Linked DNA regions of Homo sapiens. The protein of the gene in region 1 interacts with the protein of each later gene in a pairwise test. Each region holds a gene or a part of one and is shown in the gene's direction. Other genes may lie near its edges.

Region 1 (3,500 bases):
AAAAGAATTTAATTGTTATGAAAAAAATCTGAATAAAAATCCAAGGTTTGCTGATTAGAATTGTGTGTTCTTAAGTAAGTAACAATCTCCCCAAGGCATAAAATGGAAATTAAAACCTGCTCTTTCTTCTATGTAGATTTGTATATCATAATGGGTATGAAATAATTTTTAGTGTAAACTATAAAACAGAATTATCACCCAGGTGGGAAAAACCTTTGCTATGCAAAGCATGTTGAATTAATCATTTTGTAACACAAATATTTGTTGAGCTAAGTGCTGGAAGTAAAATCTTAAGCTAAAGAAATACCTGTTAGAATTCATAGAAGAGGTAAAAATTGAACAAATATTCACAATTGTTATGAGTGTAGAATGTCACAGGAGAGGAATGATGTAATTGTATTGGATAATGTTTCTGGTTGCACCATTTCATTCCAACATTTCTATGCACACATATTATCTTAAGTTTCTTAAATTAAGAATCTGTGCACAAAATATCTTAAATTAACAATCAAGCTGGGAGTGGTAGCTCAAGCCTGTACTTGTCCCAGCACTTTGGGAAGCCAAGGCAGGCAGGTCACTTGAGGTCAGGGGTTCAAGACCAGCCTGGCCAACATGGTGAAACCCCGTCTCTACTACAAATACAAAAATGAGCCAGGCGTGGTGGCAGGCACCTATAATCCTAGGTACATGGGAGGCTGAGGCAGGAGAAACATTTAAGCCTGGGAGGCAGAAGTTGCAGTGAGTTGAGTTTGCACCACTGCACTCCTGCCTGGGTGACAAAGTGAGACTCTGTATATAAAAAAAAATCACATACTTAAATTATGTGTCTATTTTAAGTTATATTGTATTTTCTGGGCTGAATTTTACTGTGCTGAATTTATCAGAAAAAATATACTATGATGTCAGTTGTCAACTTTGCTATTCTTGAAGGTCAGATGGCATATTCTTTCAAAATGCCAGGGCTCTCATCCCAGTGAAATATTTTCAGTTTATTTTCTGGAGGTTGGGGTTTTAAAGTTATTAACAGAATTACAAACAGAACACTTTAAAATCCATCTTCTGTAATTTGCAATGCAGCTTGTAGTCTATTGGGGCTGCTATAATGAAATACCATAGACTGGGTGGCTTATAAACAACACACATTTATTTCTCACAGTTCTGGAGGATGGGAAGTCCAAGATCAAGGCATCAGCAGATTCGGTGTCTGGTGAGCACACACTTCTTCATAGACTTCCATTTTTCCATTCTACCTTGATATGATGGCTGAAGAGGCTAGGTAGCTCTCTGGGACCTCTTTAATAAGGGCACTAATCTGAGTAATGCTAGATCTGTTCTTACGACCTAATCTCATTCCAAGGGCCCCATCTCCTAATGCCGTCACCTTGAGGGTTAGGATTTTAACATAAGAATTTGGAGGAGACATAAATATTTAGACCATAGCATGGCTATTCCATTACTTAGATTTTATATTAATCTCATAAATGCTATGTTTAGCCATGTAATCTATATCTTGACCCTATATAATCTTAAACAACATCCTTCCCTAGGATTTCCACATGTAAAATATCTAATTATAGATATGTTGTCTTTTCATATTCATTCTTTAAGACTTATTTTTTTCATATGTTAAAATAACCTGAGATTCAGTAAAATAAACATATACACCAAGGAATATTACATCTAACCTCATATTGTTCAATATTTTCCTTAGCTTTAATAGAATTATTTGAATATAAAATAGTTTCCTTAACATTGTCAAGGTCTTTTGAAATTCAAATGCAAAGACAGGACTTATAGGCTCATTTTATATGGGTGTGTGATTCAAAAGCAGAGACAGGACTCATAGGCTCATTTTATGTGTGTGTGTGTAAATATACACATATGCAAACACATACACACACATATACACAGATATATATGTATGTGTATGCATATAAATATATACACATCTCCATACTTCTAACTATATGTATATCTATCTACATCAAAAGAAAGATATCATGCAAACAGGGAAAACAAATATTAAATTATATAATAAGATTGCTTTTGTTTGTGTGTTTGTTTTTTGAGACAGAGTCTCGCTCTGTCACCAAGGCTGGAGTGCAGTGGTGCAGTCTCGGCTCACTGCAACCTCCGCCTCCTGGGTTCAAGCAATTCTCTTCCTCAGTCTCTCTGGTAGCTGGGATTACAGGCACCTGCTACCATGCCCGGCTAATTTTTTGTATTTTTAGTAGGGACGGGGTTTCACCATCTTGGCCAGGCTGGTCTTGAACTCCTGACCTCGTGATCCACCAGCCTCGGCCTCCCAAAGTGCTGAGATTACGGGCTTGAGCCATGGCACCTGGCCTGTAACAGAATTGTTTTTGAGAAATAATTTTCTCCTAAATGAAAACTTACTTTACAATCAGAACTAGTCTTTAGACATATTGTCATGTGGAAATTGTACATGATTGACAATAAAATGTGCATGTCTATCACTGATGTTATTTGTGGCTACCCCTACCTTACTTATATCACCGATCAGTATATCCAACACAAATTTTATGATGACTCATATATGTGTCATGAAGATTTGCAATAATAATTAGGTTTCCTTTTAGAAAAACATAAGGTATATTAAATCCTTAAATATCACTCAGGACTTGAATTTCCAAATTCCATTCTGAAGAATAGTCATGGAATCACACAAAGATGTCACACTCTTACATTTGCATCTTCCATAATGCAATGTCAGGGTAGTCTATAATTCTGTTTGAACTTCATCTGGCCAAAGAAGGAAAAAAAGAGGCTCATTCTGCAAAGTAATTCCATGTTAGCACACAAGTGTTAAAGAAAATCATTTTATGTTAAATAAAAATGCAGAAACTAGAATGAAGCTGAGCTTCAAATATTTTAATTATATAATGTTGTTTGTTGAACAGTTACAGATCACTCCAGTAAATCTTCTAGCTTCTAACTTACAGCTTCTAGTTTACAACATATTCTCATATAACCTTCAAGATCAACAGATAATAATCTTCAATTGTCAGAGTCACCCCGAATGATTTGCAGAGAACTCAGTCTAAAGGCTCTCCAGTTTCAAGGTATTTTTAATTTGGACAAGCTTATTCTGGCGTTTTTTTCTCCATCCAGATAAACTTGGAGAAAACTCCCACCAGATTTTTAATATCTCACAGTGGGAAGACGAGAGAAAGCAGCTGCAGGAGCATATAAAAGAAGTGGTAAAATGGACATTTTTATAGAGTTAAGGCTGCCAAATATAGACAGAATGGGAGATCCTTTCACTTCAAAACATCTTTTTCACAGAGCTAATCAAAGGTGTAATGTTGTAGACTTGTAAACTAGTTAAGATTACTGGAATAAACAGACTAAATTAATGATACTTCTGCCAAGATAAATGGAAAATCCCACCTAACGAGATCATACTCCATTGGTGGAAATGAGAGGGATTATGTTTTGTTTTTTACTCATAAATCATCAAATGGCCCAATGCCAAGTAT
Region 2 (2,687 bases), on another chromosome or scaffold:
TTGGAGGGATACAGAGTAGAACAGTTGTAAATAAACTGATATGCAGGGCCAGTGGGCCTCAAAGGTCCCATTATAACATCACACCTATTCTGACTCCTCCATATGTATTTGTCTTCTTTGACCCTCTTTCTCCCCCAGGTGAGGGTCTGGGTGTTTCCTGAGGGAACGAGAAACCACAATGGCTCCATGCTGCCCTTCAAACGTGGCGCCTTCCATCTTGCAGTGCAGGCCCAGGTGACTACTGCTCTTCGTTCTGCTACTCAGCTGCCAACCCCCACCATTCCCTCATCTCTGGGCAGGGGCTTATTGTAGGAGTCTCTGAAGAGAGCTGTGGACTGACCTGCTTTAACCCTTCCCCAGGTTCCCATTGTCCCCATAGTCATGTCCTCCTACCAAGACTTCTACTGCAAGAAGGAGCGTCGCTTCACCTCGGGTGAGGGCTTTGAGCAGTTCTGGGGTAGGGTGTGTCCGGAGAGGCTGGGAGGACATCCCTGTGAGGCAGGGGGATCATTCAGTGTCAGAGCCATGAGATGTCTACACAGTCATCTAGTCTAACCCCACATCAGCCAATAAGTCTTTACTAAGCACCCACCATACCCTGCCAGATGGGTAGCACTTGGTCCCACCAAGAGAGGCTGTTACTAATCTTAACAGGAAAGATAAGGCCTGTGTGCACAAAGCTGTAATGAATAACACTCATTCAGCAGTAAATGCCAAACCCAGAGGAGGGGGGCTGGAGGGGTGCTGAGGAGATGTCTGAACTGGGGATTGGAGAAGGCTTTGTATAGGAGAAGGGCCTCAGAAGTGGCAGCTGGCAAGCCCAGGGATGGTTGTCCAGGGTTGGGGGAAGAGAACTGAAAGGTTGAGGAAGAGTATCACTCGGAAGCTGGGCCCCACCTGTGGGCAAAGACCTGGGTGGACAGGCCATGATGGTGCTCCCCTTGCCCCAGGACAATGTCAGGTGCGGGTGCTGCCCCCAGTGCCCACGGAAGGGCTGACACCAGATGACGTCCCAGCTCTGGCTGACAGAGTCCGGCACTCCATGCTCACTGTTTTCCGGGAAATCTCCACTGATGGCCGGGGTGGTGGTGACTATCTGAAGAAGCCTGGGGGCGGTGGGTGAACCCTGGCTCTGAGCTCTCCTCCCATCTGTCCCCATCTTCCTCCCCACACCTACCCACCCAGTGGGCCCTGAAGCAGGGCCAAACCCTCTTCCTTGTCTCCCCTCTCCCCACTTATTCTCCTCTTTGGAATCTTCAACTTCTGAAGTGAATGTGGATACAGCGCCACTCCTGCCCCCTCTTGGCCCCATCCATGGACTCTTGCCTCGGTGCAGTCTCCACTCTTGACCCCCACCTCCTACTGTCTTGTCTGTGGGACAGTTGCCTCCCCCTCATCTCCAGTGACTCAGCCTACACAAGGGAGGGGAACATTCCATCCCCAGTGGAGTCTCTTCCTATGTGGTCTTCTCTACCCCTCTACCCCACATTGGCCAGTGGACTCATCCATTCTTTGGAACAAATCCCCCCCACTCCAAAGTCCATGGATTCAATGGACTCATCCATTTGTGAGGAGGACTTCTCGCCCTCTGGCTGGAAGCTGATACCTGAAGCACTCCCAGGCTCATCATGGGAGCTTTCCTCAGCACCTTCACCTTCCCTCCCAGTGTAGCCTCCTGTCAGTGGGGGCTGGACCCTTCTAATTCAGAGGTCTCATGCCTGCCCTTGCCCAGATGCCCAGGGTCGTGCACTCTCTGGGATACCAGTTCAGTCTCCACATTTCTGGTTTTCTGTCCCCATAGTACAGTTCTTCAGTGGACATGACCCCACCCAGCCCCCTGCAGCCCTGCTGCACCATCTCACCAGACACAAGGGGAAGAAGCAGACATCAGGTGCTGCACTCACTTCTGCCCCCTGGGGAGTTGGGGAAAGGAACGAACCCTGGCTGGAGGGGATAGGAGGGCTTTTAATTTATTTCTTTTTCTGTTGAGGCTTCCCCCTCTCTGAGCCAGTTTTCATTTCTTCCTGGTGGCATTAGCCACTCCCTGCCTCTCACTCCAGACCTGTTCCCACAACTGGGGAGGTAGGCTGGGAGCAAAAGGAGAGGGTGGGACCCAGTTTTGCGTGGTTGGTTTTTATTAATTATCTGGATAACAGCAAAAAAACTGAAAATAAAGAGAGAGAGAGATCTGGGTGTTGGTGGTTGCATTTGTTAAGGAATTGAAGAAGCAGTTCTTGCCCAGGCAACCTGCCCCCAGCCAGAAGACTCAGGGGCAGGCCAAGAACACAGGCCTCCCCCTTTCTTCAGCTCTCTGAAGTTTCCATTGTTCATTGCTCTTTGGTGGCTGATAGCCTTATCTGCAGCTCACAGTCGGCCAATCCCAGAGGATTAGTGGGTCCGGTTTCTGTATAAATTAGGGGGCAGGGGTGCTGTAGAGGCTTCTTATCGATGATTGACGCCGAGGCCCAGGCTGTTGTCCTCACAGGAGCCTGGTTAATGACATGGCAGACACAGTGGCTGTGGTCAGCCTGGAGTGGACTACACTGCCACTCTCACCAAACAATAAGTGAAACTGTTGGGCTGGGGACAGGATTTCAGAAGAGAACGATGGTAAAGTGGAGAGGCATGAGGATAGTGAATGTTGGAGAGGGGCTTGGAGGAAAGAGGGAATGCCTGAATGGAGAGGG
Region 3 (4,114 bases), on another chromosome or scaffold:
ACTAGTATTTAGAACAAGCAATTGAAAGCCGCAAATAAAGATGATGAAACAAGTTGGTAAATACTTTTTCTAAGCAAACTGGTTGTAGATTTAGCATTGTTTAAATTACTGTCAATTTTTTCTTATGAGGAGTGATTTCATCATTTGTTTAAAACCTGGCTTTTGACACAGTTTTTCTGAAGTCTTTAGAAATTTGAAAAATTATCTCGCATGACTCTGTATTTCATGAAATACCAATATTTTAACATTTCCCTGTAAACAATAAAACGTACTAATATGGATTATGAATGTGAACAAATTGTGAATGGACTTTTTAAGAAAGTAGATTAATTAAATATCTGTAACCAGAAAATACATTTTTAAAATGTAGGTTTGTGTAGTTTTACTTCTATACCTTGCCACATAACATTTTGTGATAGACAAATGCTCTTTGTTTAGAATTTCTCTTGTAGAGAAAGCTTCATTCAGTTGTTTCTTTCCCTTTATTTATATGCCTGTGTGCATGATGTCTAAATCACTGGTCAGGAGTTCCCTGGGGATTTTCGTATCTGACTACATGGCAAGATTCCAGACCCAAAGTAAACCTTTCAGAGAGTGGGAATGAGTGGGAGGATGTCGCCCTGGGCATGGTGCTTAGGAGGCCAGATTTCCCTAAACCTGCTCTGCTGGGAGCCCTAGGAAGCCTCAGATGCAGTCTGCTGTCCAGGTATACTCACAGGGTATGGGGTGGGGGACTGTCAATTTCTGAATAGACTTTGTCTCATCCACACGACAACATATTTTAATTTTAAAGGCGAACGTCAACCTATTTAGAAAACTATAAGTGTGACTGATGCATTCATTATTTAATAACTCCGGGGTGAAACTTGAGGTGAACGGTTTCACCCTTTCATACTCAGGAATGGAACTAGTCCTCGGTACCGTGCACAGTCTGACCTCACGCTCGCACGCTGGGCTCCCGGCCTCCTGGCAGTGCACTTAAGTGTACCCCGCGTGTGCCCGGCGGACTCCCGTGCACACCGCCGCCGTGCTGTTGAGTACGAAAGACCCCCGAGAGGAGCTCGCAGATGAGAGCCTAGCTGTTGCTGTGAGACTGACTGCGGGTGGCAGCCGGCAAGAAGGAACTGCCAGTACCGACCCTGGCGCTCCCCACCAACTGCGGCGCAGCCTCCTCTGCGGTGCCCGCCCTTCGGCATCACTGCAGTCCCTGTAGCAAAGCTAACTTTAAAAATTTAAATAAAATAATAATTTTTTAAAGGCCCGAAAACTCCGGCTCCCACCCCTCCCCCAGCCTGCCCGGCGGCGGCGGCGCTCAGTGAGTGACACGGCGAGCGTGAGCCGCGGCCCCAGCCGGGCCGAGCGCGCTGCCTGAGCTGAGCCGCCGTAGGTGAGGGGCCCGCGTCCCCGCCCGCCCTGGGCGCCGCGCCTGGCACTGATCCTGCCGGTCGCCCACTGTCGCCGCCGCCGCCGCCCGCGGGCACCATGACAGCTCTGAGCGCTGGGGTTACAGGTTGGTCACCGCCGCCGGTGCCCGGGAGGCTGCGGCGCGGCCGGCTCCGTGCCCTGCGCCCGAGGCCCGCGATGCGCGCTCGTTAGTTCCTTGGCCGGTCCGGGCCAGGACGGCTCAGGGGCGCTGGGGCTGCGAGAGGGGCTGCTAGAGGGGCTGCGGGCGGGGGCCCCGCGCGGGGGAGGGGTGGGGAGGGGCGCCTCCACCCGAGAGCGGGGCGGTGGGGTCCTTGCCGGCCTGGCCGGGGCGCGGGAGCCGCGATGCGCCCTCCCTATTCCTGCGCGTGGGTGTCGGGGGCGCCTGCCGCGGGATGCCCCTGGGCTGGCTTGGGAAGCCCAGGGCCGGCGACACCTCGGGCCTGCCCCGCCTGGGCATCTAGCAGGTGTTGGGGGGCAGGTGGCTGAGGACGAGGCCACTGGGCATCACTACAGCGCTGCACCTGCCCCCTCGGCACCAGGGCCGCTGCCTGGGTAAACCTCTGGGCCAACGCGCGGGTGGGGAGGTGGGGGTGGGCAGCCTGGCTCCAGCAGGTCTCCGCGGGGGCTCCGCGGCCTTGCCCCACCCCCATGCTCCTGTGGATTGCTCCTTGCTAAATGTCCCTTATGATATTCATTGGCCTTGTTAAGCAGCCGTCATTAGGGTGGCTACACCGAACGCAAAACAGTGTCCTGCCAAGCAACACCATTTTGTCACTGAATCTTTAAGACACCAGCAAGGATGGCCTGGCTGGGATCCCTCTGGGGGCCCAGATCGCAGTCATTTTGCTGACTTAATGTTCCTCTTTCAGGATGGTGTGAGAATGCTGAACTCAGACCCTTAGTGCTTGAAATACCTTAGAATAAATCTTTCAGTTTCAGGTACAATTTTTCAGACACTGTATTATTAAGGATGTGTGAATACACGCTCACTTTCAGGCCTCAGAAGGTTTTACTCTTAATCTGGTGTTCGTGTGGTCATCAGCTAGGCCCGACTGCCCTGGTGGTGAAATGTGGGTTGAGGACCAGTGACCTTCGTGTTAGTAGTTGGTGGATAACACCTCTAATAGGGGATCAAAAATTAACAGGTGGCGATTTTGAAATATATATGTATGTATATATATATATATATGTGTGTGATTTGTATGTTCATAACTACAACTGTGATTTGATATGGCCTGGGAGAGGAGCGGTTTCACTATGGTAGTTACCCCTGAGGCAGATGCATCTCAGGACTGGCTTTTTAAATTCAAAGATAAGGTTTCCACAGTTCTAAATAAAAATCATGGCTTCCCAAACATCTGCAACGAGAAACATTTACTCCCTAACTGGTTGGCTGTCATTCTGCGTGCTTTTCTAGAGTCGATTTTTCGTTCTTCTGTAGTATACTTTGACCTAGCCACTGCTAAAACCAGACAGTGTGAAGACAAAATCCAGCTTTGGAGAAAAACTTAAAAAGTGAAAAGGTTCAGTTGGATCCTCTTCTGTGTTCATAGAAGACATAATCTGTTTGCAGAATAAATGTGCCGTCACTGATAAGGACTATGCTAAAATCTCTACAGAACTCTAGGAGAAAGCATGTCTTATAAAATAGTGGTTGTACACTTATAACTTTGGATAGGACTTGCAAGATATTCAAAGGAGAAATGTACTTAAAAAATGTACTTAAAAAAAGTCTACTCAAAATAGTGTCATTTAGTTGCAATTTAGTGAACTGAAGATTTGAGTAGCATTTTCTTCTTCTTGGGTATGGCATTTCTTTGAAATGGTTTCCAGGTGATTTTATCATTCCGGCATGCTTTGTGTGTGCATGTATGTGTATACACAAATGTACACATTTGTTTTATCATTTATCGATGATGTTCAGATAATTTCAGAATTTCCATAGCTGTATAAATTTATCCCAGGTCAGAGTCACATGTGGATTTCAAGTTTGTGAATGAAAATTCACATCTACACCTCTATATCCTAAGATAAGCTAAGCACTGGGCCAGAAGCTGGGTGGTGAGTGAGAAAAAGAGATAAACTGAGAGCCTAAGAATCCTTCAGGAAAGACAAATATGTAAGCAGGTGGATATACAGTGAGATGTCTTATTTTCTAGTTTTGCTGTGGAAACTATGATAGTGAGCTTAAACATATTAAGAATGGTCCCCAAGGCCACACACGGTGGCTCATGCCTATAATCCCAGCACTTTGGGAGGCCAAGGCAGGCCTATTGCTTGAACCCAAGAGTCCAGACCAGCCTGGGCAACATGGTGAAACCCCGTCTCTACAAAAAAAAAAAAAATTCACCAAGTGTAGTGGTGTACACCTGTAGCCCCAGTTACTTGGGAGGCTGAGGTGGAAGGATCGCGTGAGCCCAGAGATGTCAAGGCTGCAGCAGGCTATGATGGCACCACTGTACTCTAGAATGGGCGACTGGGCACAGAGTGAGACTCTGTTTAAAAATAAAAAAAGAATGCCCCTGTCCCAAAATGTTATCAACATTTTAGAGCTTCACTCATGTTATACAATTCTCGCCTGTCTCAAGGACCAGCACAGATTTTCATACCTTCAAACTCTATGCAAATGCTTAAATTTTTTTAATTGATTTTTTGAATTTTAAAGTAACCAAAGTTGATAGAGATGATA
Region 4 (3,500 bases), on another chromosome or scaffold:
TGAGCCCAGGAGGTCGAGGCTGCAGGGAGCTGTGATGGTGCCATGGTGCCACTGCAGTCCAGCCTGGGTGACAGAGCGAGACCCTGCCTCAAAAAAAAAAAAAAAAATGAAGGAAGGGCTGAGCCAGGGTGGCATGAGCCTGTAATCCCAGCTACTTGGGAGGATGAGGCAGGAGGATTACTTGAGCCCAGGAGTTCAAGACCAGCTTGGGCAACATAGTGAGACCTTGTCTCAAAAAAACAGAGAAAGGAAACAGGAACAAGGAAAGAGTAGGAAATGGAGAAAGAAGGAGGAAAAAAAAACAGGAAGAGTTGAGGGGTTAGAGGAGAAAATGATGTGACTCAGGAATTCCACAGCTGTTGGTCAGCCTGGCAGTTCTGGGCATATCTAGTCACATCGGAGGTCCCAGTGTCCCCAAATTTGCATATCAAAGTGGTTTATTGAGCCCAAGATGCTTAGCCCTCACTAGCAACTTGCACCTACCTCCCTTCAAGTTTCCAGCCAGTAGTGGCGTTCAGATATGGGGGCTGCAGTGGGGTCCCACTAGGGAAAATTAGGTCTGGGGGAAGTAGCTGTCTCCTCTTTCTCTCCTCCCTGCCTTTCCTATTCGCAGTCTCCAGGCTTGCTCTTGTCTGCTATTTCCAGTGCTAATGAAGAGTTGAGGCAGAAGGGGCAACGGGCCAGGGCCTGCTGACAGCCAGGAAGCCTAAAGAGAAGCTGCCTGGCTATTGGCCTTTGGCTTCTTGCCCCCGATTCCTACTACCCAGCTTCCATCTCCGGAGCTGCCTCTGGAAAGGCAGGACCTGATTCCATCCAGCAGCCTTGCTGCCTGACGGGAGAGGTTGCCCCCACCTTCTCTGTGAGGCAGGCAGAGTCCCTGATTCTGCTTCTGGCAGTCGGGGGGTTCTTCTCAGGTTTCTTGGGGCCAGAGATTCTCAGGGTGGGGCTTGGGACCTCTGTGGCACTGTAAGGCTTTCCCAGGCCTTCTCAGGCTATCTCTATCCCCCACCCCATCTTACTGAGCCTCTCTGCTGTGTGGCCCCTGCCTCGCCTCCCACTTCCTTCCTTATTCAACACATGGTGTGGGGGGCCAGCTCTTGCCAGGTACACACGTGGGTGCACACGTGAGAGGCCTTACATCTTAAGGCACACATGCTTGATACACGTGTGGCCCCAAGCCTGTGAACGGGCTGTGCACCCGAGGCCTGCTTTGCCCAAATCACATTTCTTCTTCCCTCCTACACCCCTTCCTGGGGTATGCACAAGGGCTGCGGGATGGCCTGTGTCCCTGCTGCCCTTTGTGGGTATGGCCAGAGATAGAGCTGGTATTTAGGGGCCTGGCTGGGGGGACAGGCTTCCAGGGAACCCTTTCACCCTCATGGGGCTACAGAGATAGTTCCTCTTGGGTGGGGAAAAGGAGCAAGAACAGGTTGCCAGGAGAAAGCAGTGGAGGCTGGGCACGGTGGCTTATGCCTGTAATCCCAGCACTTTGGGAGGCAGATCACTTGAGTTCAAGAGTTTGGGACCAGCCTGGGCAACGTGGCAAGATCCCGTGTCTACAAAAAAAAAAAAAAAAAAATACAAAGATTAGCTTGCATGGTGGCACATGCCTGTGGTTCCAGCTACTAGGGAGGCTAAGGTGGGAGGATTGCTTGAACCTGCAAGTTGAGGCTGCACTGAGCCATGTTTGCACCACTGCACTCTGGCTGGGATGACAGAGTAAGATCCTGTCTCAAAAAAAAAAAAAAAAAAAAAAGAAAAGGAAAAAAACAGTGGAGCCCTTCTGAGCTCTTTCTACCCAGCTCCCTCTGCCGGGTGACTGGAAGTCCTGGGTGGCCTGGAGGGCTCCTGGGGGAGCTGTGGTTTGCTGCTGAGCCTGTTGTCTGCTCATCTCCTCAGGTGTGTGGTTGTGTTGTTCAATCCCCGGAAACACAAACAGCACCACATCCTCAACAGTTCCAGGTAAATGGGCTGGGGTCCTCAGGATACCTCTTCCTTCTGGGAGCTATGAGAAGGGCACTGTCTAGAGTCTCTATGGCTCTGGGGGCTGGGACCTGGTTGGGTCCTAAAGCCAGATGGGGAAGTGCCACATGTGCCATTGGTGTCTGCTGGTCTCACCTTTTGAGAGGCTGGGAGGGGGCTAGGCTTAGGCCAGGCTGCCAGTGCCCCTCTGAGCCTGCCCCATCTCTTGCAGGAAAACCATCACTGCCCTTGCCTTCTCCCCTGATGGCAAGTACTTGGTCACTGGAGAGGTGAGTGAGGAAGAGGGCTGGCAGTACTGTAAAGAGGGCAGGTGTCCTGGCCTCCGCAGAGAGCTGCGGTCCTAGGCCTGCTGTCACTTTGGCTTCTGAAACAGACACCAAATCCTGGTTTTCGCTATACCTTAAAATAGTGGTTCTCAAGCTTTAGTGTACATCAGAATCACTTGGAGGGCTTGTGAAAGCACACATCACTAGCCTGGTCCTCAGAGTTTCTGATTCTGTAGGTCTGGGATGGGAGTCTGAAATGTGCATTTGTAACAAGTTCCCAGAGAGTGCTGATCCTGCTGGTGAAGGAAGCGTGCTTTGGAAACCACTGCCTTAACTATTCCTTACCCCCGGGGGCCCCCTGCTGGGCTCAGGAGGAACGCTTCTGTCCTGGCGGCGTAGTCTTACTAGGGGCAGAAATAGACCTGAGTGGTAGTGGCTCTCAATGCCGGCTGCCCATCAGAACCATTCAGGGAGCTTTGAACAACCTGAAGTACAGACGGCCACCCAGAGATGCTGACTAAAATCCGGGGCCACTTTCTTCCTGGTAATCACTGTTGCCCTCAGATCTTTATCATATTTCCTCTATACCCTGCCCTGACTTTTGGCTGGGGAAGTGATGGTATCTAGTAGCTGAGGAGGCGAGGGCCCCGCTCTGGAAGACGAAGTGGGGCTGTATGCCTGTGGAGAAGTCAAGAACTCACTTCCAGTTCTTGCCTCCCTGCAGAGTGGGCACATGCCTGCCGTGCGGGTTTGGGACGTGGCAGAGCACAGCCAGGTGGCCGAGCTGCAGGAGCACAAGTATGGTGTGGCTTGTGTGGCCTTCTCTCCTAGCGCCAAGTACATTGTCTCTGTGGGCTACCAGCATGACATGATCGTCAACGTGTGGGCCTGGAAGGTGAGTGGCTGGGTGGGGTGGCCTGGCAGCCTCACAGGGGTCAAGTGTCAGCTGGGGAGGCAAGAGACTGCTGACCTGCACTGCTCCATTCCACCCCACTGAACCATTCTCATTCTAGAAAGTTATTTGAAGCAGAAAAGAGCAACTGTGTGGCCAAGCATGTTGGTTGAAGGGGCTAGCTTTATGCCTTCAAAGACTTCTGCAGGAAACGAATCTTTTCAGCTCCTCTAGAAAGGGATTATTTCCCTACCCCTCTTTTTCTGGCCAGTAAATTCTGGAAAGAAACACTTTGTCAAGTACAAATTCTAATTCTCCTCCATTCTCTGAGTCACTGTCTTCTTAGCTCCAAGAGACAG

Evidence for each region. Proteins that work in one complex are often made in the same cells at the same time.
Region 2: the proteins of MEOX2 (region 1) and AGPAT1 interact in binary tests that used the Homo sapiens proteins (3 or more experiments, as listed by UniProt).
Region 3: the proteins of MEOX2 (region 1) and NALCN interact in binary tests that used the Homo sapiens proteins (3 or more experiments, as listed by UniProt).
Region 4: the proteins of MEOX2 (region 1) and MAPKBP1 interact in binary tests that used the Homo sapiens proteins (3 or more experiments, as listed by UniProt).

What each region holds. Positions count from the first base shown.
Region 1 is NC_000007.14:15,620,684-15,624,183, reverse strand, and holds part of MEOX2 (homeobox protein MOX-2), read left to right. Parts: intron 1-3,500. UniProt on the Homo sapiens protein: Mesodermal transcription factor that plays a key role in somitogenesis and somitogenesis and limb muscle differentiation. Required during limb development for normal appendicular muscle formation and for the normal regulation of myogenic genes.
Region 2 is NC_000006.12:32,167,712-32,170,398, reverse strand, and holds the end of AGPAT1 (1-acyl-sn-glycerol-3-phosphate acyltransferase alpha isoform 1 precursor), read left to right. Parts: intron 1-138; coding exon 139-234; intron 235-282; exon of another isoform or gene 283-360; coding exon 361-433; intron 434-950; coding exon 951-1,123; 3' UTR 1,124-2,187; downstream 2,188-2,687. Other genes in the region: EGFL8 (epidermal growth factor-like protein 8 precursor), read right to left, coding at 2,443-2,489. UniProt on the Homo sapiens protein: Converts 1-acyl-sn-glycerol-3-phosphate (lysophosphatidic acid or LPA) into 1,2-diacyl-sn-glycerol-3-phosphate (phosphatidic acid or PA) by incorporating an acyl moiety at the sn-2 position of the glycerol backbone.
Region 3 is NC_000013.11:101,413,709-101,417,822, reverse strand, and holds the start of NALCN (sodium leak channel NALCN), read left to right. Parts: upstream 1-1,314; 5' UTR 1,315-1,510; intron 1,511-4,114. UniProt on the Homo sapiens protein: Voltage-gated ion channel responsible for the resting Na(+) permeability that controls neuronal excitability. NALCN channel functions as a multi-protein complex, which consists at least of NALCN, NALF1, UNC79 and UNC80.
Region 4 is NC_000015.10:41,808,984-41,812,483, forward strand, and holds part of MAPKBP1 (mitogen-activated protein kinase-binding protein 1), read left to right. Parts: intron 1-1,899; coding exon 1,900-1,962; intron 1,963-2,194; coding exon 2,195-2,252; intron 2,253-2,973; coding exon 2,974-3,144; intron 3,145-3,500. UniProt on the Homo sapiens protein: Negative regulator of NOD2 function. It down-regulates NOD2-induced processes such as activation of NF-kappa-B signaling, IL8 secretion and antibacterial response. Involved in JNK signaling pathway.